Linked DNA regions of Homo sapiens. The protein of the gene in region 4 purifies or fractionates together with the protein of the main gene of each other region. This does not show direct contact. Each region holds a gene or a part of one and is shown on either strand. Other genes may lie near its edges. The genes, in order: LRRTM3, NAP1L4, KATNIP and CEP78.

Region 1 (7,593 bases), on a different chromosome or scaffold from region 4:
GATCCCTAACTCAAGAGCGTCCATTCATGACCCTATGAAGTTAAAATGTCAGAAAACTCACAACTGCTTCCCCACCTGAAAAACCATCATCCTCTCTCTGATCTTTAGATATGCCATAGGAACTCAGCTGTCAAAGAGGAACAGTCTGTGTCTTCTTAAATGACAAACATTTTGAAAATACACCTGCTACTTCATATTGGTAAGAGCAGCTACATCCAGCGGAGGAAGCCTTTTGTCATTCTTTGATGAATTAATGATGTAATTTTGCATAAGCAATGACATATAAAAGGAAGTCCCTGTACATTTATACCCCTTTTTATCCAGTGATTTTTCAATAATTATAATTGATAAAGTCAATAGTAATTTCTATACTAAGAGGAGATCTTGGGCACAGTCTTCCACTGGAGTGGCCAGGGGAGAAACATCAGAGCAGATATCATGTGACTGATACCTGGAATGCGTGCTAATCCTACAGTAACATGTTATATGCAATTACTTTTTGCTCAATAATGATGTCATGTTGCCATATAAACATTATATTGATCCAGTGTAAAGTCAACAAGGATTGAACACAATGATACTAGAAAGGGAGTGGACAGGTAAACGTCCTGATTGAAAGCCCTTGCTATAGTTGCCTGATCTGAAATACAAGTAGAATTTTCAATGTGTTTGATAATTATTTGTTTTAGTGTTCGCTGGTCGGTGTCTTTATGTCTGTTGTACATTGTGATAATCAGTATAAAAATCATAGACTTAGATAACATGAGGTGGAAGAAGCTGTGCCTATGTGAAAACAGAAAGTCAAAGACGATGTTCTAGACTTCTAATGATGTAAAATGGGCTTGGGGTTCTGTAACATGGAGGTTACTGATTTCTTTTTGGCTCATGCCAAACATAGAACAACAAACCCCACTCAGTATCTCACTAAGGGCTTTTTGAAAAGAAGAGGTAGTTGCCATTTTAGAGTTTACAAAGTACTTTTCACATTTCGTCCTCCCAATTACCATGAGCAGTCAATAGTACACATCTGTGTTACATATGAGAAACTTCAAATTCAGAAAAGCCAGGAAATGTACCTGTGATGACTTGATTAGCAAGTGTCAAAGGAACTTGAATTTAGGTCTTAATTTCTAAGGCCCGTATTCTACCATGCCTGGCTGTGATATTTCCCTCAAATGCAAAAGAATCATAAATTATTGTTATTTAGATTTTATTGGTAGTATTAAGTATCCAAAATCATCACCAACTTTTGGAGGCTAAAAGAATTTGGGTCCAATTCTGTAGGCTATTATGATTAGGAAAGCAGTGACTTTCACCTATGTATTATTATTATTTCTTTAATTCATTTTTAATTAGAGCTATTTGATACAAACTATTTAACATCCATCCATTTTATTTCTCTTAAAACTTGTGTCATTCAAATTTACCTATATATTCTGTTGTGCTCATTGTTTCCCCCAACTGCCTCTGATTTTTAGTGTAGGTAGCTAGGAGAATACAACAATAGCAAAACTCCGTGGGTTAGCTACAGATCTGGATTCTAATGAGAATCCAGAGCAAAAAGGAATAGATGAAGCAACACAGATTCTGAATTTTTTATTTCTCATGGCTCGATTCTTACTTGCCATGTCTGGAACTCACTTTATCTCAGGCTTCATGACCTGATGCTTGTTTCTGATGCAGTCTAATCCACACTTTAAATAAACGATTTGAGTTCTCATTTTGGTAAATGTCAAGGGAAGAAGAGATATTTCATGCACCTACAGCATCCTAAAACCTCTTGCCAAATCCATGAATCTGACTCTGCATTATCCTTCCCCAGAAGGAGAGCATAATTTCATTATCCATGAATCATCACCTCTTAGACTGTAACATCATTGTCAGAGAGCCTAATAGAACCAGTGTTCAGCTGGCTGAAAAGGGGGAGGGAGGGAGAAAGCGCTGAGGCAAAGCACAGGTCACTGGCACAATCAGCAAACTGGAGAGTTCTAAAGCCGGAAGGGGAGGCCCCCCTCCTTTGACACCTTTGACATATCCCTGACCAGTAAATGACTGATGCTGACTCTTTTGATATAATATTAAAATTTGTTTTTCCTACCTAAATTACATGTATCTTGCTGATGAAAAATATTAACCCCTTTAATAAAAATATCAAAATGCTTAGCCAGCATCGATGAGTATAAGCACTCTAAAATATTTCTTATCTATTCTTATTGCGTTATTACTCGCTTTTCATCTTGGACACTTATTTCTAGCCTTCAGTACCAATTCTATGGCCTCTGTTCCAGCATTACTATAAAAGTCAAAATGAAAAGTATAACATTCAAAAATTACATTATAATTATATTTCCCAAGGAAATGAATTAAATAAAATTCAAATCTGATTTACTAGTCAAAAAACATGTTGTAAACCACGTTTACATAAGGATTCAGGATAAAAAGCTAAAATGTGTGAATAGCTGTGGTTAGTCTAACCAGACACTAGAGGTCACTGCTGCTCCATAGAAAGACAATTTACTGCCTGTCTACTTAGGTAGTTCACTCACCAAATCAAGTAAAAAATTGTTTAAATTCTTTGAAAAGATGTAATGTCAACGTCCTTGGAAAATACAAACTCATTTCAATGCAATATATCTTGCATAAGTATTGCTTACAAGACTGTGGCACTGGGACTATTTAACTACATGCTGTGGTAGCACTATGTGTACTGGGGTTAATAAAAATGGAAAAAAACTCACATGAAGTTTAGAGACTAAATCCCATTTCTTCTCTGTTTTGGTAAAGCAAAGTATTCTGTGTTCTGTTGTATAGTTCAACAGGTCAGGCTTTTTTTTTTTTTTTTTTTAACTGTTGTCACCTTTGAGGGAAGTCCAATATTTTATGTAAATACGTACTAGAAAAATAAATATCAATCACATTTCTCTAATCTGCATGAACTTGAAATACTTATACAAATAGATTTATGATATGTAGTCCAGAAAGTACCATGGGATGGAGGTGAGGCAACAACTTTTGAGCAGGAGACTGGCAGTTGGCGTTTTAAAATTTACAGTGGTAAACTAGTTATTAAATCTACAAGAATTATATATCTGTGCTCAGAAGATACTGAGAATTACAGAAGATTCATTCTCAAAGAGTGAGGAGAAAGAAAGAACTTTTTTCCCATAATTTCATGTCCCAAATCAAAATGAGTTTTACCACCTAAGGGATTTTATTTTCGTTCTTATCTATTATTATGTTTATTAGTAAAGTTAGGCATTAAAAAGTGACAGCTTTCAAAATATTGGTGATTCATTTAGTGTTATATCATATTTTATATTCCAAGTAGCTTTGAATTTTAGGAATGCTTTTCAATACAGCAAGCATATTTTATATATACTAGTAGCACCATGGCATTGAGAATTTGCAATAATTCAAAAATATAAGTATTCCTTGCCTAAATATATTTGGTATCCATCACAAGTAAGGCAGAAGGTTAAGTGAAAAAGAATAGAAATGGGGTTCTTCACTTTAAGACTGCATTTCATTAATACAAACATCTTTAGTACAGATAAAAATGAGGCTAGCCAAAGAAAATTTCTTTTTAAGATGGAATATGTATTTACTGATGCTTTATGAAAAATGTAAAGTTACAACTTCAGTAAAAAAATCACAATAAGCTCAGTCATCCAGTAAGCTGTGAGGAAGTATCTGCATTATTAATCCATTGGAAATATGTGACTTTTTGTCATGAATACATGTATATTCAACAATTATTCATGGGTAAACATTGTAACTAAGATGTTTTTCTGAAGTGGCATCTATTGTAAGATTTAATCAATATCAAAGTACCTTGAGAAATCCACTTTAACTATTTCTTTTTCTTTATTGCTTATAAAAGTATGATTTTAATGATCTGGCATCCTTAAAATTTTATTTTATGGTGACTTGCCTAGATTTTTCCTCTCAGCATATGAAAAACCCCCAAACAATAAAAAAAAATTAGTAAAAATAGCCATTCACTTTTTCTTTGTTGCTGCAGTGATTCTGTTTTCAGAGAAGAGGGACATGGTTAAAGATGTAGGGGTTGGCAAGCCAAATTAAATGAAACAGCCTCAATGTTGCAGTTCCTGATATTTGCTTCTATAATAGAACTGTTCATTTTGGAGGATGAAGGAGAATACAGACTAAATATATCTTTCTAAAAACCTTAATTGACTGTGGTTCAAGTTACTCAAATATGGAAGCTATGATATTCGTGCTGCAGTCAATAAACTTTCACCAATGACATAAAAACATGCATGCAGCTTGCAGATTGCCAACAGGGTCTGTACAGAACTGTACTGATGGATGAGTTCACAATACAGATGAACGCAGGGACATTGTAATGTCAGCAATAGAAAAGCAACAGAGAACTGTCATAGTGTTGGTCTTTTTTCCTCTAAGATTCGTTTTATACATTTATTAAGGTGTTATCAAAGTCGTCCTTTTCAATGAGGCTGTGGGTGGAAGGCACGTCTTGGAATGTGTTCTCTTTACACATCTGAATGAAGTGTCTGTCATTAGGGGACTGGTGTGTGCAGGACATGTAATGGAACACAACAGGGCAGCCTGACAAATTCTGAACAGAACAGGACAGAGCTAAGGATTCTACTAACTACATTAGGGTCTTCGAAAAAACTGGAAAGAGAAATTCTGGTAAGCTCTCAACCACATGCCTGTAGCAAGCTGCTTTCCCATTCGCGAACCTTATCTGAAAACTCCCTAACTAATGTGAGGTGTGGTGGAGAAATCTGGCTTCTCAATGCTGTTTCATTTATTTATTTATGAAACATACAGGCTAGAAGAAATTGGCAGTGAAACCTCTAGTCTGATTTTACAGAGATGGGTTTCAGAGACAAGGCTGAGTCGAAAACTTTACATTTTTGTCATCTCCTCACATTTTGCAGTTGTCTGCTTGCAGTATTTTAACCCTTCATCACTTTGTCCCTGTGCTTGCCTTACTGTAATTCAGACACCTCTGGAAACTGCTCAGGGTGCTGCTTTAACCTAGCACCATCTTTTGATAGTTTCCTGCAATTTTCTTTTCTAAGTCAGGCATTGGTTTAAAGGCTCTGCCTGTCTGTAAAATGTTCCCATAACTGAGTCATCTCCAAGAATCAGCTCAAGCTCCGAGCACCTGGAATCATTCACCTCTTTCCTTGATTTGCCAGTGAGGTGCAAACCTTCTATAACTGTAGATTTGGTCCCACCAGGAGGCTAACAGCGAATGTGGGGGATTACTTATGAAAGAAGTTTTATCTTAAAACAAATGCGACATTAATGGAATCAGTAAAGGGTCTTATACAATAGGTATTATATTAAACCGGAGTTCAAGCTTCACATTGATTGTGGTATTTAAATTTCAATGGGTTGATTATGTATGAGAGGAAAATGACCAGTATTATGAATGCACTAAAACGGACAAGGAAGGATCTTGCCAGCAAAGTGAGAGGGAGAGGGAAGGGGAGGGGGGGCATCGCGTTCCCTTGATAGTCACCAGAGTTCAATAAAGCACCACTTATTTCCCAGCTTTTAAGAGCTCTTTTTATCACAATGGTTCATACCTCACACTCCCTGGAGCCCGATTTGTTATAGGTGCAGGGTCCCGTCCCATTCAGCAGCATCTCGCTGGTCTCCGTGTTGGTGGGTTTATAATCTACATAAAATTCCTGGGTGCTGGGAGTCATTTGCTTTAGGGACTGTCTTTTCTTTTTCCTGTGCCTTCGCATGAGGGAGCGCTGCTGCAGCTGCTTCATGCTCGCAGGGTACCGCTTCCATGACACGTAGATAACCAGCAGGATGACGAGCACGGACAGGAAAAGCGCCACGCTGCCCGCGATGATTTTATGGAAAGAGATGTGCTCGGCGTCAGCATCGGTCTCTGGGCCGGGCTCTGTGGCTCCCACCGTCGGGGGCAAAGGGGGTTTGCTCTCATGCTTCGGCCTGGGGAGCTTGGGCTTAAACGTCGGCTTTGGGAGAGCCCTGGCCAGATCAAACCTCTCTGTAGTACTTTTGCCACAGATGCTGTAGTTCTTCACTGCATCGATCACATTTACTCCTTGCAGCTCTTTGGGACTGGCACAGATAATTGTATTCTCCCTTAGACCTTTAAAACTTTTCAGCCAGTTTACAAGGGAGCAAATATTTCTGCTGCATTCCCATATATTCCCAGCAAGACTGATGTCATTGAGGGATATCCAAGAATCCAAAATCTCTTGACCAATAAATGTGAGCTTGTTGGAATCCAGGTTGAGGCGCTGCAGATTCGGGACACACTGGAAAACACTGGGTCCACTGAAAGCTTCGATCTCATTGCCTGATAAATCAAGCCTTTGTAAGGAGCTCCAGGTCCAGGACATGGTCTGTCCTATGACACTGATTTTATTCCACTGCAAGTAAAGGTTCTGAAGGCTGACCAACCTTGGAAAAAGGGCCAGGTTGAGCTTGGAAAATTGATTGTGCTCCAGGTGAAGTTCTTTGAGTCTGATCATGCCAGCAAAGACATTCCTGGCTAAACTTCGGATCCGGTTATATCCCAGGTCCAAAAGTTCCAGGTTGCGGCAGTCTTGGAATATTCGCACAGGGATGGTTCTCAGGGAGTTAGACCGTAAATGTAAACTCAGCAGCTTCCGCAAGCCCCGAAACTGTTCAGATCCCAGAGAATGCAGCTGATTATAGGACAGATCCAAGTTCCGTAAATTTGTCACAGGTCTGAAGGTATTGTTAAGAAAATAGGAGATTCTATTGGAACTAAGAATCAGCTCTTTGAGTCTGCGTATTCCATTAAAAGCATTTTCGTCAATATTGCTGATATGGTTATGGTCAAGGTATAGCCAGGTGAGCTGGTTGAGCCCTTTAAATTGATTATACTTAAGTTTTTGAAGGCTGTTATAGCGAAGGGACAAACCTAAGCAACCAGCAGATATACTTGAGGGTATCTCCTGTAATTTCTGAGATTCACAATATACCATTTTGCCTTCACACCTACAGCCCTTAGGGCATCCTCGTTCGGCAGAAGAAAGCATTGTCAGTAAGACAGTGGGGGCTATAACCAGTGCTACAGCTGATCCGCTCAGTAGCCTAATTACATTGAAACCTGGAAATAAAAACAACTTAGAAAAGTTATCCCCCCAAAAAAGAATTAATCCTTAATCAAGCAAAAATAGGCATATATTTTTCATTTTTAAAAATTTAAATCTAAATAACACTTAACATCACATATTATCTCTTTGTAATTAAAGAGAATTGTCTTTAGTGTTTTGTTTTTTTAAATAGTTAAACAAGGAAACATGCCACTAAGCAAATAAATTCATAGTCTTAGAGCAGAGCAAGGTAATCTCTAAAATAATTAAGGCAGAATTATTACACACACTAGAGGTTTTTTGTTTTTTGTTTTTAAGAAGGAAAGAAGAAAAATGACAAAACATACCCATCCTTTGTATTGTTCAAAGGTCGTCCTTAGGTCTTTTGCTTTGGCTTAGGGGCCAGTTGCATGACAGCCCCTGTCAGCTGCACTGTAGTGAGTCAGGGCTCGCTGACACCCAGGAAGAAAAATTGGACCCCTTGGGAGAT
Region 2 (7,593 bases), on a different chromosome or scaffold from region 4:
CTGTGCCTGATTTTCCGTTGAGTCCTAATTTTCAACTCTTCTGACATAAAACAAAACAAAAACAGCAACAAAAAGATACCTGCAAGTATCTAGACAAAAAGTAACCCAAAGGCAGTTGTGAAATGGGCCACACCTGCATGCGATGTTCAGTCTCCAATGCTGCGCGTGCCACCCACAGAAGCATGCGCTGGCTCTAGATCACCAAGATGAGCACTTCCACCAGCATGCTTTCCAGAGATGGCACTGGGACTTCAAACTCATCCCACTCAAAGACGCAGTGCCCACTCATGTTTTCCCAAACTTCATAAAATAACCATTATGTTCTAATTTCCTCAAGCAGCCATGTACCCTGTGGGTCAAAACTTTAAATGTCCAGGGCAAATATTAAGGTAATGCCCCACACTGGCAGACGCTCAGACTCAGGAAGCAAAGGCACAACACTGGAGGCATCGCACTCAGATCGTAAAGCCACCATCTCAAATTTTCCACTCTCCTTGCAGAAATATATTTCAACTATCCCCAAATTTAGAACAAAGGGACTCAGAGTTAATCCGCCTTTGGAATTTAATATTTGACCAAAATGAGCTGGGCATAGTGGCGCATATCTACAGTCCCAGCTACTCGAGAGGACCCCTTGAGGCCAGGAGACTGAGACAGCAGTGTCCTGACTGTGCCTATGAAAAGCCACTGACCTCTAGGCTGGGCATCATAGCAAGACCATGTCCCTTAAAAATGAAAGGGCTTCTCTCAGAAATGGCAGACTTCAAAACCAGACATTAAAAAACAACTGTTGGCCGGGCACGGTGGCTCACGCCTGTAATCCCAGCACTTTGGGAGGCCAAGGCAGGCGGATGATGAGGTCAGCAGATCGAGACCATCCTGGCTAACACAGTGAAACCCCGTCTCTACTAAAAATAAAAAAATTAGCCAGGCGTGGTGGCGGATGCCTGTAGTCCCAGCTACTCGGGAGGCTGAGGCAGGAGAATGGCGTGAACCCAGGAGGTGGAGCTTACAGTGAGCCAAGATCACGCCACTGCACTCCAGCCTGGGCGACAGAGCGAGACTCCGTTAAAAAAAAAAAAAAAAGAAAATATTGTTAAAAAAAAAAATCAAAATAGAATATGCTACCATTACCTGCTATGAGGTTACAAACAGTACAAATAACATTTCCTCATTCTCTGCATATTAAATGAGTACTCTATCAACCCCTGCATATCTTTTTAAAGCTGTTAAAACAAAAAGCAACAAAAGACACTTCATGGCTGAAATGCTGAAGCACTGACACTACTACAGAGGTGCTGGGAGAATGAGAAGGGACACCCCATTTAAAATGTGGCCAAATGCCTCACTGTGCTCTCAAAACCCAAGGCAGCACTATCCATGGCCAGTGACCCCAATGCCATAACCAGGTGGCCACACGCACAGAAGGGGACACCAAAACTCACTCAAGTCACCTAACTCTAGCTCCCAAACCCTGTTATCACTGCACCCCCAATCCCACGTGAAGATGCTCCAACCCTGCAGTGCAAGAATCACCCCAGGGCCCATGAGCCAGACAGCCCCACAGAACCAGAATCCGCACTGCCATGGCCACTCCCCATGCCCCCCGAAGTCTGAGAAGAACGAACTAAGAGCTAGTCTTTCCACCTGCTCCCTGCCATGGAGATTTTCAACTCTCAGGGTGCACATTAGAGTTCCTAAAACCAACTCAAAACTCTCAGTGCCATGGTGACAGATGAGGCATTTAGTTTTTGCTATTTAGTTTTCAAAGCTGCTCAGGTGATTGTAATACACAGGGTGAGACTACGGCTCTGGTAGACATTACTTAATTTTTCCAATGAAATTCTGGTGCATGGCATTCTTTTAAAAGTATGGTCTAGTCTTCTTAAATTCCACCTTTTCATATGAAAAGGAAGCTCAGATCAGGAAAAACCAAGGCTGTTCTATTTTAGATGCTTTCTGGTCTGGAAGGAGAATAAGAAATACATCATTCTTTCCATCTTTTCTCAAGTTTTGGCTTAGGACACAGGACAAGCATTAAACAAGGGAGGTAGCAGAGGCAGCAATGTGATACATTTGTGAAAACCATTAAAAACCGTAGCTGTAAAATCCTGTGCAAATTACAATGTAGCAGTTTGCAACGCACAGTGCCTATGCTCTGTGATGGGAGAAGCACTCTGCCCACACAAGCAGAGCCTGCAGCTGTCCTGAGCAAGTCTGAATGCAGACGTGCTGTTTCTGGGGACGCTGGAGCAATAAAAACTGACGGCAAGTCAGTCAGTGAGACTTAAGGCAAGATTTGTTTCTCTGTTCTAGAAACTTCTATTATAACTCATTTCAGGGAAAACCAAATTTGTTACCTTTTAATTTGTTCACCATTTCACTACAGAAAGTGAAATGTCAAGGCAAGACAAAATCAGAAATGGTGGTTGGGTTTTGTTGTTGTGTTGTTTTTTTTTTTTTTTTTTTTTGGAGACAGGGTCTCGTCACCCACCAGGATGGAGTGCAGCACCGTGATCACAGCTCACCACAGCCTCAACCTCCTCGGCTCAGGTGATCCTCCTGCCTCAGCCTCCCAAGTACCTGGGACCACAGGCGCACACCACAACGCCCAGCTAACTTTTCTATTTTTTGTAGAGATGGGATTTCGCGATGCTGCCCAGGCTGGTCTCAAACGATCTGCCTACCTTGACCTCCCAAAGTGCTGGGACTACAGACATGAGCCACCATGCCTGGCCTCTTTTTTTAAAAAAAATAGACACTTTTTCAAGAGAAATGATCAGAAAATATTAGCAACTTGTTCAAAAATTCACTGAGATGTGTGTGTACACACACACACACAAACAAACACACAGCTCATCCCTTCAAAATTCATTCTGCTCTGGTCTCCTGCCCTCACCCTTTCCTGCACACTCACACCACAGGAAGACAGAGATGGGCTCTGGAATCTATTCATAGGCTTTCCCACAGGCAAGACAACAGAGCTTTACAAGAGGTAAAAGGAACTGATTTGAAAGTTTTGGATCAGGCTGAAGCGCCCAGCTTTCCACCAAGAACTGCAAAAGACAGCATGGAAGCCCCACTGTGAATAAACCATTCACTGTGAGATCAGGACTGCTCATCTGAGGTCCTGGTCAGAGAAAGTGCCCTTCCGCCCACTATGAACAATCTTTCAATGCCCAGTGTAGTGCTTAAAAAATGCCATAGATAAGTAATGTTAGAAGACTAGCACATAATCTCTCTACAAGACAGAAGTGTGCTTACCTGGACTAATTCACTCAGCATGTCCACATTTCTGAAGATGGTAAACCAGAACTCTGGAATTCCTTTGGGATCTGGCTCTTCAGCCGTTGCCGCTGCTTTTTCTGTGACGACTACTTTACTTTTCATGTCTCCCTAAAAAAAAGATGCAACATAGGTAACGAAAATAAAAGTTTACAAACAATGCAGCGGCTTCACGTAGAATATCGTTGCCGAATCCTCTACTATCTCCCATCAAACACCTTGCTTTCTAAGTCTGCACCTCCAAACCACTCACTGGGCCACGCGACACTTTTCAGATGCTTCTGAGGAAAAAGCATTCAAGTCATTACATCCACACGGAATTCCGTACCATTTCACATCAAAGGCGAAGAAACTAAAGAGATGACAAAGTGCCACCGACGCTGGGAAAGGCCATCCAGTGCTAGCTCTGTGAGGTGCCATCCTGAGACAATCATCATCACAAATGCAGATGCAAAGACTGTACATCAACCTTAAGGAGATGCAATGCAAATATGCAGAACATCTAGCACTGGGCAAAAAAAGTCCAGTGCAAGGATAAAGAAGTTCACTTGGACTAATAATCTGACCTCTTGTTAAAATTTGTGGGGTGCTAAGTTGAAATAAAAAAAAAAAAAATTGCCGCAGCAGTATCTGCAGCAAGAAAGTGCTCAGCAACTTATCCAGCTTGTAAGGAAGTGGCTATAAATGCCAGCTCAGACACCACGCAAGCATCAGAAAGTGACCAGAAAGGCCACATGGCAAAAGGAAGGGGAGTCAGGCCCCAGGGAAAAGGTAGACCAAGGGAGGTGAAACGCAACACCAGATGCAACTATGGGAAATTCTGAATGCCTTGCCAAACGGGATTGTTATGATGAAATGATCTTGAAATGAAAGGCCTTTTAAATCAGCAAAGGCAGATTTCCCTTGAGCTGTTAGAAACTGATTCACAACTGTATTAATCCACAGCCATGGCTTCAATTAGGCCAGGTTCTATATATTTTTAAAGCATCAAAAACACATATGGCTACCAAAATCATCATATACCACCCCCCCCCCAAAAAAAAAACTGCAAAAAGTTAGTTATAGGATAAAAGTTACTTGTCTCCCAAACATAAAATCAGGCTGACAAAGTTAATCCATGGTACACTGGGAGTTTTCACAGCACTGGAATGGGACCAGTCACTAGAAAAAGGCTGTGAGCAGGTGACTGATGGCCACACCACAACCACCATCTGCAACCAATCCACTGGCGGAGCACCTCTCAGGGGGCAAGCTAGTCCATGCCACTGAGCAGGAAGGCACTCCCCTCACAACTCCCCCAATCTTCCAGTGACTGAGAACACAGGGGCATCTCTTCTTCATCTTTGCTTTCTCTGATGTTTTAATCTTTGTTGGTCTGATCCCTTATTTCAATATGCTCCTGTCCACAGATAACTGAGGTGGCACTACATCTTACTCCTATTAACTGACAGTACTGTGTCAGATGCTAGATCCATATCAGAAAGGAATCTAAACCCAACCTAATGATGCAGCAGCACCTACTGTTAGAAGCACATAAGTTTACTAGTCATTAAAAATCATTAAAAAATGCTTATTTTTAACAGTATTAAAACAGAACATGAGTCACATGTTTCTAAAGACTTACAGCCAATTTCTCTTCCTCTTCATTTTCACTGTGCCATTCCGATTCCGCATCTGTTGGTTCAACATCGCCGGTGATAAATTCTCTTCTCTACATAAAAATGAGACCTTATTAGAATTATGTTATTAGCTTACTTAGGAACTCAAGAGTTAAATTTATAAATAATGTCTACTAAAAGACTTTGAAAACTGGATATTTTTATAACTTATTTTAAGATTCTAAATTTTAGGGTTCAAAGAAAAATATTAAATGATTCCCTGGGTAAACCTGGATGTTTCACCTAAAGATGTAAAATAAAGACAGTCCCCGATTTCCAATGGTTCAGCTAAAGATTTTCAACTTCCTGATGGTGCAGAAGCCATCACACTTTGGGCACCAATACAGCCACACTGTGTTCCTCTCTCTGTGTAGGGTTCAATACATTACGCGAGATACTCAGCACTTTATTATAAAATAGGCTTTGTGGAAGATGATTTTGCCTGACTGCAGGCTAATGTTAGCGTTCTGAGCTTGTTTAAGGTAGTCTAGACTAAGCTATGTTTGGCAGGTTAGATGCGTTCTTACCCTAGATGTTGTCAACTTATAATGGGTTTATCGGAACCTAACACCTTCGTAAGCTGAAAACTATCTGTATATTAAATTAACAGAGCTCCCTACCTTGTCAAAGAGAGGCTGGTATAGCGCTGCATACTTTCTTTCCAAGTCATGTACCTCTTCATAGAACTTGGCTTCTATGTGAGCACATCTCACCTGAAGTTGTTTCAATGCATTAATTCTTCTTTTTACTGCTTTAGGTAAACTAAAAAAGGGAGTAAGAAATACAACATCCTCATGCCTGCAAAATAAAGCAGCATGCTTTTCAATTTTATTAAAATAAATTTAGGTTAACATGGAATCAACATCCTTACTATGAACAAGACCTCTTAAAAATTAAGAAAAGGACAATACCCCAACAGGAAAAAAAGGATACAGGAGGAAGCAGAAAAAATAATTCACAAAAGAAAAAACACAAATTGTCAAACATGAAGAAAGATTCAATTTCATAAAATATCCAAAAGAATGCAAACATTTAAGAACACTCAGCTTTTCCTTACCAAATTGGCAATTAAAAACCAAAACAAAACACCCAGGTTTTACGAGGCTAAGGGCCAAGAAGCCCTCTAACTGACTCATCTTTCTGAAGGGCAGAAATATTGAAAATGTTCTTTGGACCCAGTAATTCTATTTCTAAGAATTTATCCTTAAGGCTGGGCGCAGTGGCTCATGCCTGTAATCCCACCACTCTGGGAGGCCAAGGTAGGATTGCTTGAGGGCAGGACTCCAAGACCAGCCTGAGCAATACAGCAAGACCTCTCTCTACAAAAAAATTTTAAAAAATTAGCAAGGCATGATGGTGTGCGCCTGTAGTCCCAGCTACTCAGGAGGCTGAGGTGGGAGGATCACTTGAGTCTGTGAGGTCAAGGCAGCAGGGAGCTATGATTGCGCTACTGCACTCCAGCCTGGGAAACAGAGCAAGACCCTATCTTACCAAAAGGAAAAAAAAAAATTTATCCTAATCAAGTATTTATGCTGGAGTGTCCGTCGATAGATCTGTACAAGTGAAAAACTGGACAATGCAAGTGCAACAGCATTCAAATATGGCCTATTCATAATCACACTGTCCAGGAATATTTAGTGCCACGTGGGAATCCACACTTGTTAACACACTGGAGGAAAAAATCTGAGAAACACAGACCACAGGCAACACAACTTTGTCCTGGAGAGTCAGGTCAACTATGAGTTTGCCTTTCAATTCTGTTCTATGTTTTAAAAAATAGTTGTTATGTATAACTTTTATAAATCAGAAGAAAAATCCTTGTTTAACCCATCAAAACTATTTGTTCAAAACGAAGCCCCTGGTCACAATCATGTGGACTGAACAGCAGATTCCTGGCCTCATCATAGACCCAAATAATCTACCTGGGGCAGGGCCCTGGGTCCTGCATCTTGAATACTCATTCACACAATCAGAGTCTTCAAGTCTAAGCACTTGACTTACCCTCCAACAACAGACAGCACAGAGCAGTAGGCAAGTCACACACACATATCACTGGTCTGGGAGGTATTAGAACAACTGCCTTGCATCCCAAAGGACCACTCTCCTGGGTGAAATACAACCACAGCTACCTCAAGCTAAAGGTCCTTAGTTTAAGCAAAGACTCTCAAATAATGCTTAACATTCTAGAACTACTGCTAGTAGTAGATGAAAAAAAGGGAAAAGCAGAAAGAATTTAACAAAATGGTAGACTCCCACTGCCATTTTTACCCCTTTTCTGCACTGGTCATTCATTCATTCATTTATTGTGACAGGATCTCACTCTGTTGCCCAGGCTGCAGTGCACTGGTGCGATCTCGGCTCACTGTAGCCTCAACTTTCTGGGCTCAAATGATACTCCCACCTCAGCATCCTGAATAGTTGGACTACAGGGGCACATCACCATGCCCAGCTAATTTTTTTGCATCCTGTAGAGTAGGGGTTTGACCATGTTGCCCAGGCTGGTCTCGAACTCCTGAGCTCAAGCAATCTGCCTGCCTCGGCCTCCCAAAGTGCTAGGATTACAGGTGTGAGCTACCATGCCTGGCTAATTATACAATTTTAAATTAGTTTAATTTTTGAAGCTTTCCAACTGAAGTAAAATGACAAAGGA
Region 3 (7,593 bases), on a different chromosome or scaffold from region 4:
GCCCTCTGGGGTCTCTCCTTGGTGTTGACACTCCGGCTGGTCCCCCACCCTGGCTCATGCCGTAGGCCTTTATCCCTGGCCTCGGTCTCTCCAGGACCCTCACCGATGACATCGTCTGATGGGAGCCTGCCCTTCCAGGCCAGGGGCTTCTCGGGACTAAGCCAGAGGGGTTTTGGCTTCCTGCCTCCCTGCTTCCTGTCCTTGCCGGTGGGAGAAGGTTGTAACCAGGATGGGGTTTTCCCGGGTGGCTCACAGATTTTTCTGCCCATGAGGTTTTCCAGTTGTTGGATGAGAGAGGGCTCCTCATGGACAGGAGGGCACTTCACAGGTGGGGAAGTGGCAGGAGCACTGGGCATGTCACCCATCGAAGTGGGGACTGCCGACAGTCTCAAATATTCCTCTAACTGGGACAAACTGTCTTTCCTGCAATTAGTAGAATTCTTTCTTTTGCCAGACACATTTCCTTGTGAAGAAAGCTTTGCATCCGCTAATGTTTCAGCTGGCGGTGAGCAACCGAGACCAAGCTCCTTGTCCCCGCTGGCACCAGCCATCTCATGGGTGCCTTTGCTTTCTTCCGAGTGAGCGTTCATGGCCTCCTCTAGTTGCTCGCTCTTCTCGTTCTTCTGGTCAACCAGGATGCTGTGGTCAGCTGGGGCCTCCCTATCTCCTTTGTCTAACTTGCCATTGAAGATGAGGTTTCTGTTGACGTAAAGCTTCACGTTCTTGGCACCAATGTCAAGATCCTGAAACCATAAGATTTAACAAAGTGAAGATGCATAGCATCAGACTGATGTATGAAATTTTGGAAGTCGAAGATACCAAAAAAAGAAAAGAAAATGTGAAATGCTAGAAATGCAAGCTTTTGAAAACCACAGTGCTGGGGGTGTGAAACTAGGCTTGGTCTCATTTCTGTGGGAACCGCTACATACTCTATAAATCAAAGGACTTTCACAAAGAGACGGCCTCAATCGCTGCCTTCGTCATCATTACCTCCTGTCGGGACATTCGTAATAGCCTACTAATGGGTCTCCCTGCTTCCTGTCTCTTGCTACTTTAACTTGGACTTCACATTGCCACCAGAGTTCATTTCCTACCAGAGCAAATCTGTCCAGTCATTCCCCTGTGTGAAATCCTTCATGTTTTTTCACAGCCTATAGCAGTGTTCTTTAAAGTCCAGTTCCTGAGACCATCTGCGTCGAAAAGCCTGGAGTGCTTATAAAACAGCTTTCCTGGCCTCCGTGGGCATCATAATTGGGAGACCGTAAAAGCAGAGGCTGAGACAAGGACTCGGGTGCAAGTCGAGTATTTGGCAGGTGATTCCAAGAGGAAATGGGGAAAGCAAGATAGGGCAGGAAAAAGGAAAAACCCAGTTTTTTTGAGCTGGTCACTGCTGTGGCCAACTGGTGCTCCTTCCCACGGGGGCCCTCTGCGGCACTCCAAGATCTCACTTTCCCCAACCCTAGTCTTCACCTATCTTAAAAATGGCTCCATCATTGAAGCAGTGGCCAAAAACCTCGTGGCCCCCTTGATCCCTCTCTTTCTCACTTGCCCATCCAATCCGCCAGCTGTCCCTCGCCTCTCTCTCCAGAACACTTCCTGGGTCTGACCTCTTTACCTGGAATGTGCTGCTGCCTTCCTTGCCCAGGCCACCAGGGTCTCTACCAGAGACACCACTGCCGCCTCCTAATTGGTCTCTCTGCTTCCACTCTGCGTTGTCTCCTCCAAATCCCTGCACTCACACTTCATTTTCTATGCAGCAGTGAGTTTTTTTTTTTTTAACTGAAATCAGATCATGGGAGTCTTCTGCTTAAATGCATGTCGCAAATGTCTCTCCAAGACTGGGACATTTATCCACTGCTTGTTGAAGGCTGCCCTCAGGGCACTGATGCCCCAACACATGCACGAGCTGAGTGTGCTCCCACGGCAGAGCACCCCACGAGCACCTGAGGCAGGGCACTGTCCACATGCGGGGACTGTCCCATGTTCACGGCAGCTGCAGTTGGAAGGGAGCCAGGAGGATGCCGTGTGAGGACCACTGCCTCAAGGCAGCCTGTAGGTAACTTCTGGACTCAGAACAAGTTCTCCGGATGATTTCTTCACACGACGGGGTGCAGAACCATGCCGATGATGGGATAAATTCCAAAGCTCTCCACATGACATACAGTAACCTTCACAAATGGTCCCCACCTCGCTCTCCTCTCTCACTGCCAGCCTAAATGCCCCTATGTCACGCAGGTTCAACTCTCTTCCTTCCATGCTTAAGATAAAATCACATCTCCTGCTACTGTTTCACTTGTGTCATCCTCTTTACAGCAAAACTCTTTTTCCAGCTTTATCGGGGAATAGAATACACACCCCATACAATAAACTGTGCATATTTAACGGGTACAGCTTGATCAGTTTTAACATGTGTCTACGCCAATGAAGCCATCACACTCAAGAGAACAAACGTACCTATCACCCTAAGGTTTCCTCGTGCCCCTTGGTAACCCCTGTCTCCCCTTCCTCCTTCCCTGGCTCCAGGCAACCACCCACTTATGGTCCCTCCCTATATACTGATCGTCCTTTCTGGAATGTTTACATAAAGGAATCATGTTGCATGTAGTCTTTTTTGCTCGGCTCTTTCAGTCACCATAACTGCTCTGAGATTCACCTGTGTTATGGGAACTGATAGTTCCTTTCCTTTCTACTGCTAAGGAATATTCCATTGCAGGGCCCCCCGCATGATCTGTCCGTCACCCCGTCAGTGAATCTCTGAGTGTCACTGTCCCCGTGGGCTCCTCCTCCCACTACCCCTTGTTCCTCCTCCCGTTGGGCTTCTGCCTCCACCTCCACATGGAACCCACCTGGCCCGGGCACCTGTAACTAGGGTGACGGGCCATCCTAGTTTGTCTGGGACAATTCTGATTTATATCTGTTATCCTGGTGTCATTACTAATGACTCTCAGAAGTGTCTGGTTCCTAAAGTAAATTACAGGGTCCAGCTGACTGCCATACGCAATAGGAATTTCTCCTAGGAGTGGGTGGGTGTGGCGGCTCGGCAGTACTCGGCAGCTTCCCCTCCTTTGCGATGACTTTCCTCCCTGGGGCTTGTGTGGCTCTGCACCCACCTGGCTTTCCTCCTGCCTCGCTGGCTGAGCCTGCCCGACTCCTGGGTTGCTTCCTTTTCTTCGGCTGCACTTTGAACGACTAGGCTGCCCAGGGCTCAGTCCTAGGCCTCCCGAGTGCTCTTCCCTTGCTCTCCAGGTGGTCTCATTCAGGTCCCAGGCTCCCAGTTATTTTCATCTCCAACCCTGACCTCTCCACCAAGCCCCAAGTGACTGCTTGGCCTCTCTTCCTGGATATCTAACAGGAATTCCAATATAAAATGCCCAAAACAGAATGCTCTCTTTTTTTTTTAAGAGACAAGGTCTTGCTCTGTTGCCCAGGCTGGCGTTACAGTGGCTCGATCAGGGTTCACTGCAACCTGAATTTCTGGGCTCAAGTGACCCTCCCATCTCAGCATCCTGGATAGCTGGGACTACAGGTACACGTCACCACGACCAGCTAATTAAAATAAATTTTTTTTTGTAGAGACGGGGTCTCACTATGTTGTCCAGGCTGGTCTTGAGCCCCTGGGCTCAAGGGATCCTCCTGCCTTGGCCTCCCAAAGTGCTGGGATTACAGGTGTGAGTCAATGTGCCTGGTGTGCCTGAAACAGAATTCTGAAATCACTTTCTCCACACTTAGTCTTAAACTATCTTAAAAATGGGTCCATCATTCGAGCGGTTGCTAAAAAGCTTGCCGTCCCCTCGTCCCCTCTCACTTTCTCACTCATATCCAGTATGTGGGCACGTCCCTCGGCTCTCTCTCCAGAACACGCCCTGGAGCTGACCTCCTTGCCCGCGTGTGCTGCTGCCTGGGCCACCAGGGTCTCCCCCAGAGACACCACCATCGCCTCCTAGTTGGTCTCTCTGCCTCCACTCTGGGCTGTCTCCCCCAAACCCTGCACTCACTTCATTTTCCACACAGCAGTGAGTCTTTTTTTAACAACTGAAATCAGATCATGGGAGCCTCCTGCTTAAAGCTGCCCAGTGACTTCCTATGGCACTGACAAGAAATCCTACTCCCCTTCAGGGGTGCCTGCTGACCTCTCTGACTCCGGCTCCTGGCGCTTGCCTCGATTCCTTGATGTGGCTCAGCCTGTTCCTCCTGCCTTAGAGCCTGTGCACTTGCCTGGCGTGTTCTGCCGCAGATGCCCACAGCCTTGCTCCTTCTTCTGTTCAGGACCTTCAGTGAACACACCTCTAGGGCAGCCCCACCTCATCGGTCCCCTCTTTATCTTATTGCCCTGTTTTATTTCCTTTTAGTCTCTGAATGGTCTTGCTTATCAGCTTTTAACTTATTTATTGTTTTTCCCACTCAAAGTTAGGCTCCAAGACAGCTGAAGCCCTGCCCGTCTTGTCCAAGGGCACATTGTAGCCACCCAACAATTATTTTTGGGCCAGGCGCAGTGGCTCATGCTTGTAATCCCAACACTTTGGTAGGCCGAGGTGGATGGATCACCTGAGGTCAGGAGTTCGAGACCAGTCTGGCCAACATGATGAAACCCCGTCTCTACTAAAAATACAAAAATTAGCCAGGCATGATGGCGTGAGCCTGTAATCCCAGCTACTCGGGAGGCTGAGGCAGGAGAATCACTTGAACCTGGGAGGGGGAGGTTGCAGTGAGCTGAGATCGTGCCATTGTACTCCAGCCTGGGTGACGACAGTGAAGCTCCGTCTCAAAATAAATAAATAAATTACTTTGGAATAGCAAATGAATAAACATGGGTTTTCTCTCCTGAACAGCACTGCTGTCTCAACAGTGCTCTAAGAATGAACCTGATCAGAAAAGCGGCGGCCTGTGGGTTTCACCTCCAGATCGTTTATTTCCCGTGTTGCCTTGGCTTCTGATCTGCTCTTGGGAGACAGAATCTGAGACCCTGGAGATGTTCACCTATACTAACCCCTTCTTAGCCTTCCTGAAAGCTAGGTGAGTAGGAGCTAACAAATTTCAGGATCACTGAGTTACAGAGGTTTCCGCAGCAATTTAGAAGGAGAACTGTCCGGCCTGCGTTACGCCACAGGAACTCGGCTTCAATCCTCCAATTGCAGATGGCAGGCTACCATTTGCCGACTGTCAGAAAAGTCGATTCTCAAAGCACTCTTTTACCTGCTTATATGGATGGATTCTCTGTTTAGCAGAGGCACAGAGCAAGTGCGTGCTGTGAATTCACCGGGGAACAGCTATTTGAGAAGGACAGCATGGGCAGTTTTCAATGACTGGTTCTGCAAAATTACTGCCACAGGGATATCTGGTGAGACAGAAACACCTTCCTTTAAAGAGGTAGTGGGTGATGGGGAAACCATCTAGTCCAGCACAGTCACAAGGTGGGCATCCTAGCTTTCCTAATAGGGTGGCCGGCTTCCACAACATGGCCACCCATCTTCCTTCCCCAGTCCAGAGCCCATCTGACCTCCAGCCCTGTTCCCACCAAGACGTCTGGCGGAGAGGGAACTGAGAGAGGGAAGCAGGCGGAGGCAGGGGTCAGGCTTGTAAGAGAGGAGTGGGCTCAGGTGGAAATCAGTGGTATGCAGGGGTCACAGGGAGGTGGGAGGGTCGTACCCTGCCTGGCAGCTCTGAGCTCTGAAAGGTTTCCAGCACTCTGCAGGCCAAACAAGCCACATTCATGGGCAGATGTGGCCCAAGGATCACCAGAGTGGGGTCCCCATAGGGAATATTAGTCACTTCTCTGGATATTCTGTTTAAAGGATAACAGACTGCCTTGTCCTATGTCATCCTCAGAACAATCCTGCAAGGGAAGCATTAGGGCCCCATCTTATGGATGGAGAAACTGAGGCACATGCCTTCCCCAAGGTCACACAGCTGGTATGTGGTAAGCCACTATGGCTGGCATGCTAAGGTCTTAACCACCATCTTTCTGTGGGTCAAGCTAGATTCCAAGAAAGCCACAGTCCTGGCCCATGCTAGCCTAGCCACTGTTAGGAGCACCTGTACCGGTGGAGCTCTGAGCCCCTACCCTTTTTTAAATTTTTATTTTTATTTTTTGAGACGTCTCTCTCTGTCACCCAGGCTGGAGTGCAGTGGTGTGATCTCAGCTTACTGCAATCTTTGCCTCCCAGGTTCAAGCGATTCTCGTGCCTCAGCCTCCCGAGTAGCTGGGATTACAGGCACGCCACTACGCCCGGCTATTTTTTGTATTTTTAGTAGAGATGGGGTTTCACCATGTTGGCCAGACTGGTCTCAAACTCCTGACCTCAGGTGATCCGTCCACCTCGCCCTCCCAAAGTGCTGGGATTACAGGCATGAACCACTGCACCTGGCCTTTTTTTTTTTTTTTTTTTTTAAATAAGTCCCTATGGGCCAGGCGCAGTGGCTCACACCTGTAATCCCAACACTTTGGGAGGCTGAGGCAGGTGGATCACGAGGTCAGGAATTTGAGACCGCTCTGCAGAGGTGCCAGAAACGCTGTCTCTATTAAAAATACAAAAATTAGCCAGGCGTGGTGGCAGGCACCTATAATCTCAGCTACTGGAGAGGCTGAGGCGGGAGAATTACTTGAAACTAGAAGGCAGAGGTGGCAGTGAGCCGAGATTGTGCCACTGTACTCCAGCCTGGGCAAAAGAGGGAAACTCTGTCTCAAAAAAGAAAATAATAATAATAATAATAAATAAGTCCTTATAGACTAACTGTCTCCTACCCCACCCCAGCCCCCACCTCCACCTCCACTGGGTGGTGGGTGTGCGTATGTGTGTGGGTTCCAGTTCTTCAAGACATTTTTCTACATATTTACGTATATACCGCATAAGTGTCATTATACCACAAGGGTGTGCTTAGAGGCTGTATGAGAGTCACATCTGCCCCATGAGGAAAGCAGGATGGAAGATTCTGCGAGTCTGGATTCCTCTGCGCCCCCTCAGTGCAGCTCTGTATAAAGGACATCTTTACGAAAGGATCCAGGGGGAAAATCCTTTCTCTCCTCAAGAACCAGCCTGCTTCCTCCCCCTCCAGTCGTCAGGGCTTTAACCCCAGGCTCTTTCTCCCTTCTTCTGTCTTCTTCCATGAAGTGCACCATGAAATTCCTTCCTGCCGAATGTCTTAACCTTAACCTTTAGAACCCTGTCTCTCTCTCTGCATATGTGTGTGTGTGTGTGTGTGTGTGTGTGTGTGTGTGTGTCCTTCTTGTTTCCTTGGTGTGAATATTTTTTTTCCTTCTTTAACTAGAGTTATTTTTATGCCTTTTGTTCATGCTGCCTCAAACACCCTTTGCAATGGATTTTGAAAAGGACAGTTTGAAACTCTGTGGCTGGTTTGTAGTTAATGGGAACACCTTTCCTGGCCCACATTTTGCCCTTATCTTCCTTCTTTACAGTTGGTGAGAATCAACTGTGCTGAAACTGTAATGCATTTTTAATACAATATTAATATTATTTCAATCTAAGTGATTAATTAACTCAGCAAGGCCACTTTCATCCCTGGCCCCAGTGTAGAATGGCAGGTCTCTTGCAATGAACACACAACTGCCCAACAAAGATTCATGGCGGCACGGTT
Region 4 (7,593 bases):
AACATACAGACAACTCCCACTTATTCATGCCTGGAAGACTCCTGCCCAAGACTACTCATGGCCAGTTTTTAATCTTGGGTATTGAAAAAATAAAAATAGAAAACCATATGCACACACATAATACAAAAAAGAAACCCTCTTCATAGATGTGTCATGATTACCCTCCCTTTAGTACCAATAAATTACCCAACATATTTTACAATTACAGAGTTGAAAAATAACTCTACATAAAACATCACAGAATGAATATTTGTTCATAATTAACAAGGATGCTAGTGGCAGTGTAAACATCACAGGCAAAAACTGGGTGGAGCTCAGAAATTGCACTAGATTCATCATCAAATTCAAATTCAAATTCCAAGTGACTCTCAAAAAATTACATTAAAAAAGTGAAAAGAAAATACAAAAATGTAAACTGTTAGTTTTAGAATAAAAATGACAAAGAAAGAACTCTAAGGAGATAGAAATAATGAATCCAAAGAATGTGTGAATAGAGATTATAGAGATTATATACTAAAAACCTATCATGAAAAAATAATGGTCAAGAACTCTCTCTCAAGTAAAAGGTCAAAGAACTAAACAAATGCTCATGAATACTAGTAATACTGAGGCTGAACAATCTACTCATTTCAACTCAAAAGGATTATCACAAAAGTACAGGCATAAAAAAAGATTACATCAGAGCAAAAGCACGTGTATACCATTACATTAAAATAACTGAAGTCTTTCAGAATCTCATTTTATGGACTACATGTCTGTATTCCCCAAAAATGTATATTGAAACCCTAATCCACAACAGGGTAGTAGTATTAGGAATTGGGGCCTTTGAGAGGTAATTAGGTTTAGTTGAGGTCTTGAGAGTGGAGCCATCATGGGATTAGTGTCCTTACAAGAAAAAAAAGAGACTAGAGTTCTCTCTCGCCACCATTTAAGGATATAAAAGCCTTCCATAAGCTAGGGAGAATGCCCTCACCTGACACCTATCTACTGGCATCTGGATCTTGGGCTTCTCGGACTCCAGAACTGTGAGAAATGAATGTCTTCTCTTTAAGCCACCCAGAATATAATTCTGTTATATGCTTCTATAATGGAGTTATATAATATATACTATATATAATATAGAATATTCTATGAAGCCCTAACTGACTAAGACACCACAAGACACACAGAAATAAGTCAGATATATGGATCTGATAGAATATGGTAAAACCTTTACAAACTCTTGCTGCAGAAGAATGAGCATAGGATGTAATTATCCACCTAGCCAAATTAATAAAAATAGCCAGTAAATCTCACTAGTAAATCAAATGAATATAAACTAAAACAATTAAATGTGATTATGCTTCTATCAGATTGGCGAAGGTCACATTTTAAAAAAACCTTTAAAATGTGCAGACTCTGTTAACACAGCAACTCTCCTTCTAAGAATTTACCAGAAGGAAATTATAAGAGACACGGGCAACAACACGTATCAAAGTACTGTTTATAACAATGAAAAACTGGAAATAGCTTATATATCTAATAGGAACGGATAAGCCAAGTGTACTATTGCATATTAACATAATGGAACCCTGAAGAGTCACTAAAAATGACATGGTAAATGTAAACTTACTGATTTAAGATATGCTAGACTGAGTGAAAAAAGCTGTAAAATTCAGAGACCAATCCCATTTGCATCAAAAAAGAAAAAGCAGGGGAGTTCTCATTTTTGTAAAGTTTAAGGTTTTAAAATAGACACAATCCAGCATTTATGAGACTATAATATGGCACAGCATTTCTGAAAGGCAATTTGGTGACATGCATCAAAAGTCTTTAAGAAATACATTATACTGAGTTACTCAACTTTAGTAATTTATCCTACAGGAGTAACTTCAGGCTGGGCACAGTGGCTCATGCCTGGAATCCCAGCACTTTGGGAGGCCAAGGCAAGAGAACTGTTTGGGCCCAGGAGTTTGAAACTAGCCTGGGCAACACAGCAAGACCCTGTCTCCACAAAAATTAGCCTGGCATGGTGGTGTGCACCTGTAGTGCCAGCTACTCGGAGGGTATAGTGGGAGGATACTTGAGCCAGGAGTTTAAGGCTACAGCGCGGTATGATTACACCATTGCACTCCAGCCTGGGCAACAGAGAAAGACCCTGTCTCAAAAAAAAAAAAAAAAAAAAAAAGTAACTTCAATGGACACAGAGATGTATACATAAGGAGTTTACTACAGAGTTGTTTATAACAGGGGAAAAGCACAAACTGCCTAAATATCAAATAGTAGGGAATTAAACTATTATGCCTCAATATAATAGAGTACTACATGATACATCATTAAATAAAAAAAGCAGGGTTACAAAATGGTAAGTGCACTATAGTTCTGTTCTTGTAACTCTAAGCACACAAATGTATCTGCAGGAAAAAACAATACTGAAAGTGTATACACCAAAATGAACAGTTTATCTCTAGGCATTGAGATTATATGTACTTTTTTTTTTTTTGTTACTTGGTATTTTCTATAAAGAATATATATAACTTTTATAAAGGCTTAAAAACAAAATAAAACCTATTAGAAAAAAGAGGCTTTTTAAAAAACCTTCGGACAACATTACTGTGCCAAGAGTTAAGCATATTTAATATCAAAAAATTCAATATTTTCCACCTTACAAGTTCATTTAACTTACCTCTCAGCCATAAATCCTCACTGAGAGAGTCTGCAAAAGCACATGCACCTAGGTCACCAATAAGTGTGTTGCAATTCAGTGTGATACGTCTTAAGCCAGCCATACAGTCAAGATCAGGTCTCCTATAGCGAAGACTCTCAGCCCAGGTTTCTTCATGCCTTCTCATGGTCTGATACTTCAAAGATTTAATAAGATGAAATTAATACACTTGGATAAAGAGATAGGAACACTAAAAGGAACTAAGTACAGCTGATTACATCAGAGCTTTACACACACACCAGGTACATATGCCAGGTGGGTTAATCTGACAGACTGATTAAATAGTAGATTTTGAGTAAGGAGTCCAGTGACCCAGATACTAGTCTGTCACTGACTAGCTATGTGACCCTAACCACTAATGACCTGTTACTGATTGCTTTATGTAAACTGACAACTTAGTTAACTTCTAAGAATTTTATTTTCTTTATATGCCAAGTGAAGGTACTGGTTCTAAATTCTATCATTGCTGAGCCTCTAAATCATATCATTCTGTCCTCCAGTGGTCTCTAAACACTTGACTGGACATCCCACAAGTAAACATTTAACATGTAAGTTATTTATTAATAAACTATATACAGGAATTTCTATATACATATTTTATGTATATTACAAATCAAACAGAAACAATAGGTATTTTTTAAATGATACAAAAATATAGAGGTTAATATTTTCTTCTCCTAACCCAAGGGATCTCACATATTTCTTAGGGTATGCACACCAAATTTAGAGGCCTAGAATATACAAAGCAAGGTTGATATGCCTTCGGAAATTGGTGGTTTGAGTTTTAACCACAGGTATTATCTTACAGACATAATCACTTCTCTTTATCCATAAAGTAAATTTCGGTAACAGGAAACACTGATTTTAAGAGAAAAAAAAATCTCATTACATTCTGAAACAAAAGATTCAAAGCTCCTATGACTCCGTCAAATGAAAACTGTCAGTGTCATTTGCTATTCATAATAACTGTATAAAAGCAATAAGAGGAAATAACAGCAAACACTTAGATAGCCAGGCACTATTTTATACACATTAGTTCATTAAATCCTAACAATGACAGACACAGTAGGTTTTCTTATTATACACATTTTATGGATAAGAAAACTGAGGAACAGAGCGGTTAACTAATTTGCCCATGGTCACAAGTTATTAAATGGGAGAGAGCTCGGGTTTTAGCCTAGGCCATCTGGCTTCAGAATCCACATGAGTAACCATTATCTATCCCACGGAGAGTGGGCTTACGCTGTAAAGGCCCCAAAATAAACATTTTCAGCTTTGTGGGTCATATAGTTTCTTTTGCAACTACTCAACTCTCCTAGTGTAGGGTGTAGCAATAGTTAATATGTAAACAAATGGGCATGACTATGTTTCAAAACTTTATTTACAAAAATAGGTGATAGGCTAGATTTGGTCCACAGGCCATAGTTTGACTACCCCGATCTACACCATCAAATTACTAAAAAGGCTTCATGTCACATTATTATGTAATTTTATCCTAAATACAGTAGTAATAACCACTATAAAGTTGTTAAGGCACCTTTAAAATTACTGTTTTACAAACTGTATTTACAGAAAAATCTAATTATTATATTTTAGGTCTTCTATTTCTAAGATTAAGCATACTACCTTTAATAAATGGTAGAACCCCAGGCTGAAAATTGGTCACATTCTTTAAACAAAACTAAAACTGCAATGCCCATATGTATCAAAAGACAAAAATAACTGCTGTCTTGTATCAAAATATTAACGTGTGGCAATCATATAACACATTTTCATGAAAGTTGGAACATAAAGTTACCTTTAAGATCTTGGCCATGTGATCTGCTCCCTGCCATGTCAGATTACATCCTGTGAAGTTGACTGTCTTAAGAGTGATAGAGCTCTTTATACCTTGACAAATAACTAAAATGGAAAAAAAAACCACATACAATAAGATGAAGAGCATATACAACCTAGTCAGTCTTGATTTATTTGCTCTTCTTATATCTTTTCTATTTTATAGTTGTATTCTTAAAATCACTATTTACAATCTACCTAAGCAACTGATTGGTACATTCTAAAATAAGTCAGTAACAAAGAGTTACTCCAGTTTATTGCAATAGTTCAATTCTATTTAGATGCCAAAATTGAATAGACTGAATATTGCAACCTTACTCCAGACCACAGTAAAGTTCTATATACTTTTTGAGACATCTGAAAGAAAAACATAAAAAAAATAAAACTCTTCCTATTTTCATTTCCAAGAGCAGACCTCAATCTGTTATTAACCAACAATTCAGTGTCAACTATAAACCCAGAATTTTATTAGGTGTTATACTAGAGCACCTAATGTACTAGAACAATAGAAGACAGAGGCCTTTTAACTCTCTGCTCCCTCAAATTGAAATGCAGGTTTCCTTACCCCTCCAGACCACTATTTCACACAACGAACACAAGACTTCAGGATCCCAACGAACAGTCACCTTCTGTGACTATTTCCATGATCCCAACCCTTTCCCCCCAAGTCTGTCAGCCTTTTATATGCTCCTATACAGCACTTTGCTTATATTTCCTATTTTGGAACATACCACAGTGCATTAAAATTGATTGTATATATGTTTTAATTATTTAAAGTAATGATGATTTTTTTTTTTTTGAGACGGAGTCTTGCTCTATCGCCCAGGCTAGAGTGCAGTGGTGTGATCTTGGCTCACTGCAACCTCTGCCTCCCAGGTTCACACCATTCTCCTGCCTCAGCCTCCTGAGTGGCTGGGACTATAGGCACCCGCCACCATGCCTGGTGAGTTTTTTTGTATTTTTTTAGTAGAGATGGGGTTTCACCATGTTAGCCAGGACAGTCTCAATCTCCTGACCTCATGATCCGCCCACGTCGGCCTCCCAAATTGCTGGGATCACAGGCGTGAGCCACCACGCCCGGCCTCTTTACATTTTGCTATTTCCTTCCCATAAATATTTCTTGAAGAAAAACTCTAAAAGATGAACAAACACAAAAAACAGAGAATACCAGATGGTATATATTTGTGTGGTCTGTGGTTTAACACAAACTTAAGTAAAGTTAGTTCAGATTACATTCAGCATGCCAAGCTTTCATGGTAGACTTGAGACTGGACCAAGGTTTGAACAAGCATATGAGGCAGTAGTAAGAAAAAAGGTACAGACAGGAATTAACATGGCATGTAGGGAAACATGAAACCAGCCTGATAGGACAAGAGTTAAATGAGATTTAAACTCACTTTCTAAACCTCCATCTCCAATTGGACAATTTGCAAGAGACAGGTGCACCAAAGAAGCCGATTTATTCAATCCCTTTAATGAGGGGGAAAAGTTAAAAATGTTATTGAGGTTTTTTTTCCTCTAAAAGCAACTATCAAATGTCTACAAGCCAAATGAGACAAAGCTTACCTTTGCTAGAATAGTTAAATCCCTCTCTCTCAGAATTAGTCCATTTAGCTCCAGGTTCTTTAGCACACTTGATATACTTAAACAGCCTTTAAGAGCTTTACACAACTGGAAGGTCACATCTTTGTATCTTATCGCAGGAACACGACTTCTGCAAAATTTATTCATGTCAGAACCTAAAACAAAGATAAAAGAAAGTTAGTGACTTCAATCATACAATGTATCATTCAAAAACATCTGCTCTGTGCTAAGACATAGAAATGAGCCATGTCCTTTAAAGTCCTCTTAAGCACAGACACATGTAAACTCAAGCCACATGGGATATACCAAACTATGTACATAGAGGTTCTTATGGAAGCAAAGAAGTTGCACTGAAAGGATGGCTTCAAGATAATCCTGAAGCTGAATCTAGAAAGATGAGAATGACAACATGGGGTGAGAGTGGGTGATGCATTAACCAGAGGGAGCAGCGAGAGCAAAGGCATCTAAGCCTGACACCTGCCGGGCACTGGAAAACTGCAGGTGGATCCGACTAAAGCCCAGAGCCGTAGCCGGAAGAGTCAGAAATTTACAAAGAGGCAGGGAGAAGCAAGCCTAGGAGAGTTCACTTTTACCTCACAGGTGATGAGGATCAGGGCTACCACTGACACATTAAGGATACCCCTAGCAGGTTAGAAAAATGTGCCTCACTGTTGGAGTATCAAAGAGATAAAGGAAATGAGAAAAAGCTCCCCTTCCTCAAGACCAACTAACCCCAGGAGGCTTAACAGAACACAGCTGAGATTTCAGTGCCTCTGTGCAGAACACAAGCAACCAATACACACTGGTCCTGCGTGGGCATGCCACTTTAAGCATGTCTTTTCCTTTTTGAAAGATCACTTGAACCAAAGTAGGCAGATGAACTGAGAAAAACCAAGCTCAACGGCAGCAAAACTAGCTAGGAGCGTCTGCAATAGTCCAGGCAAAATGTAATTAAGGATGGACAAGCAATATGTAGGAGGTTAAAATCTACAACCTAGACCCACTAGATGCAAGAGATAAAGAAGGTTCAGTGAAGAATATCTGACGAGAATGGTCTGTAATACATTTTTCTTACATTCAGTGCAAAATATTAGGCAAGATCTAGTAGGCTAGCCTTGACTCTGAGGTCCCTCCCATCTTTAATTTATTTTGGTTCCTGGTTTTTTTATTTTTTGTAGGGGGAGGGTCATGGACAGGGTCTTGCTCTGTCACCCAGGCTGGAGTACAGTGGCAAAATCATGGCTCACTGCAGCCTCAACCTCCCGGGCTCAAGAGATCCACCAAGCCCAGCTAATATTTTTTACTTTTTGTAGAGACAGGAGTCTCACTATGTTGCCCAGGCCAGTCACAAACTCCTGGCCTCCCAAAGTGTTAGGATTACCAGTGTGAGCCACCGCACCTGGCCTGGTTCCTGATATTATTTTGGTTAACTAAAGTCCATTCAGAGGTACAGAACAGTTCCTGCACCT

Evidence for each region.
Region 1: the proteins of CEP78 (region 4) and LRRTM3 purify together in Homo sapiens (co-immunoprecipitation; one large-scale study listed by IntAct). This does not show direct contact.
Region 2: the proteins of CEP78 (region 4) and NAP1L4 purify together in Homo sapiens (affinity purification with mass spectrometry; one large-scale study listed by BioGRID and IntAct). This does not show direct contact.
Region 3: the proteins of CEP78 (region 4) and KATNIP purify together in Homo sapiens (tandem affinity purification; one large-scale study listed by IntAct). This does not show direct contact.

What each region holds. Positions count from the first base shown.
Region 1 is NC_000010.11:66,926,445-66,934,037, reverse strand, and holds part of LRRTM3 (leucine-rich repeat transmembrane neuronal protein 3 precursor), read right to left. Parts: 5' UTR 7,455-7,593; coding exon 7,451-7,454; intron 7,118-7,450; coding exon 5,586-7,117; intron 1-5,585. UniProt on the Homo sapiens protein: Exhibits a limited synaptogenic activity in vitro, restricted to excitatory presynaptic differentiation. May play a role in the development and maintenance of the vertebrate nervous system.
Region 2 is NC_000011.10:2,966,539-2,974,131, forward strand, and holds part of NAP1L4 (nucleosome assembly protein 1-like 4), read right to left. Parts: intron 5,706-7,593; coding exon 5,564-5,705; intron 4,997-5,563; coding exon 4,910-4,996; intron 3,397-4,909; coding exon 3,265-3,396; intron 1-3,264. UniProt on the Homo sapiens protein: Acts as a histone chaperone in nucleosome assembly.
Region 3 is NC_000016.10:27,733,191-27,740,783, reverse strand, and holds part of KATNIP (katanin-interacting protein), read right to left. Parts: intron 5,290-7,593; exon of another isoform or gene 5,194-5,289; intron 744-5,193; coding exon 1-743. UniProt on the Homo sapiens protein: May influence the stability of microtubules (MT), possibly through interaction with the MT-severing katanin complex.
Region 4 is NC_000009.12:78,238,709-78,246,301, reverse strand, and holds part of CEP78 (centrosomal protein of 78 kDa), read right to left. Parts: intron 6,280-7,593; coding exon 6,107-6,279; intron 6,011-6,106; coding exon 5,938-6,010; intron 4,607-5,937; coding exon 4,503-4,606; intron 2,841-4,502; coding exon 2,666-2,840; intron 1-2,665. UniProt on the Homo sapiens protein: Centriole wall protein that localizes to mature centrioles and regulates centriole and cilia biogenesis. Involved in centrosome duplication: required for efficient PLK4 centrosomal localization and PLK4-induced overduplication of centrioles.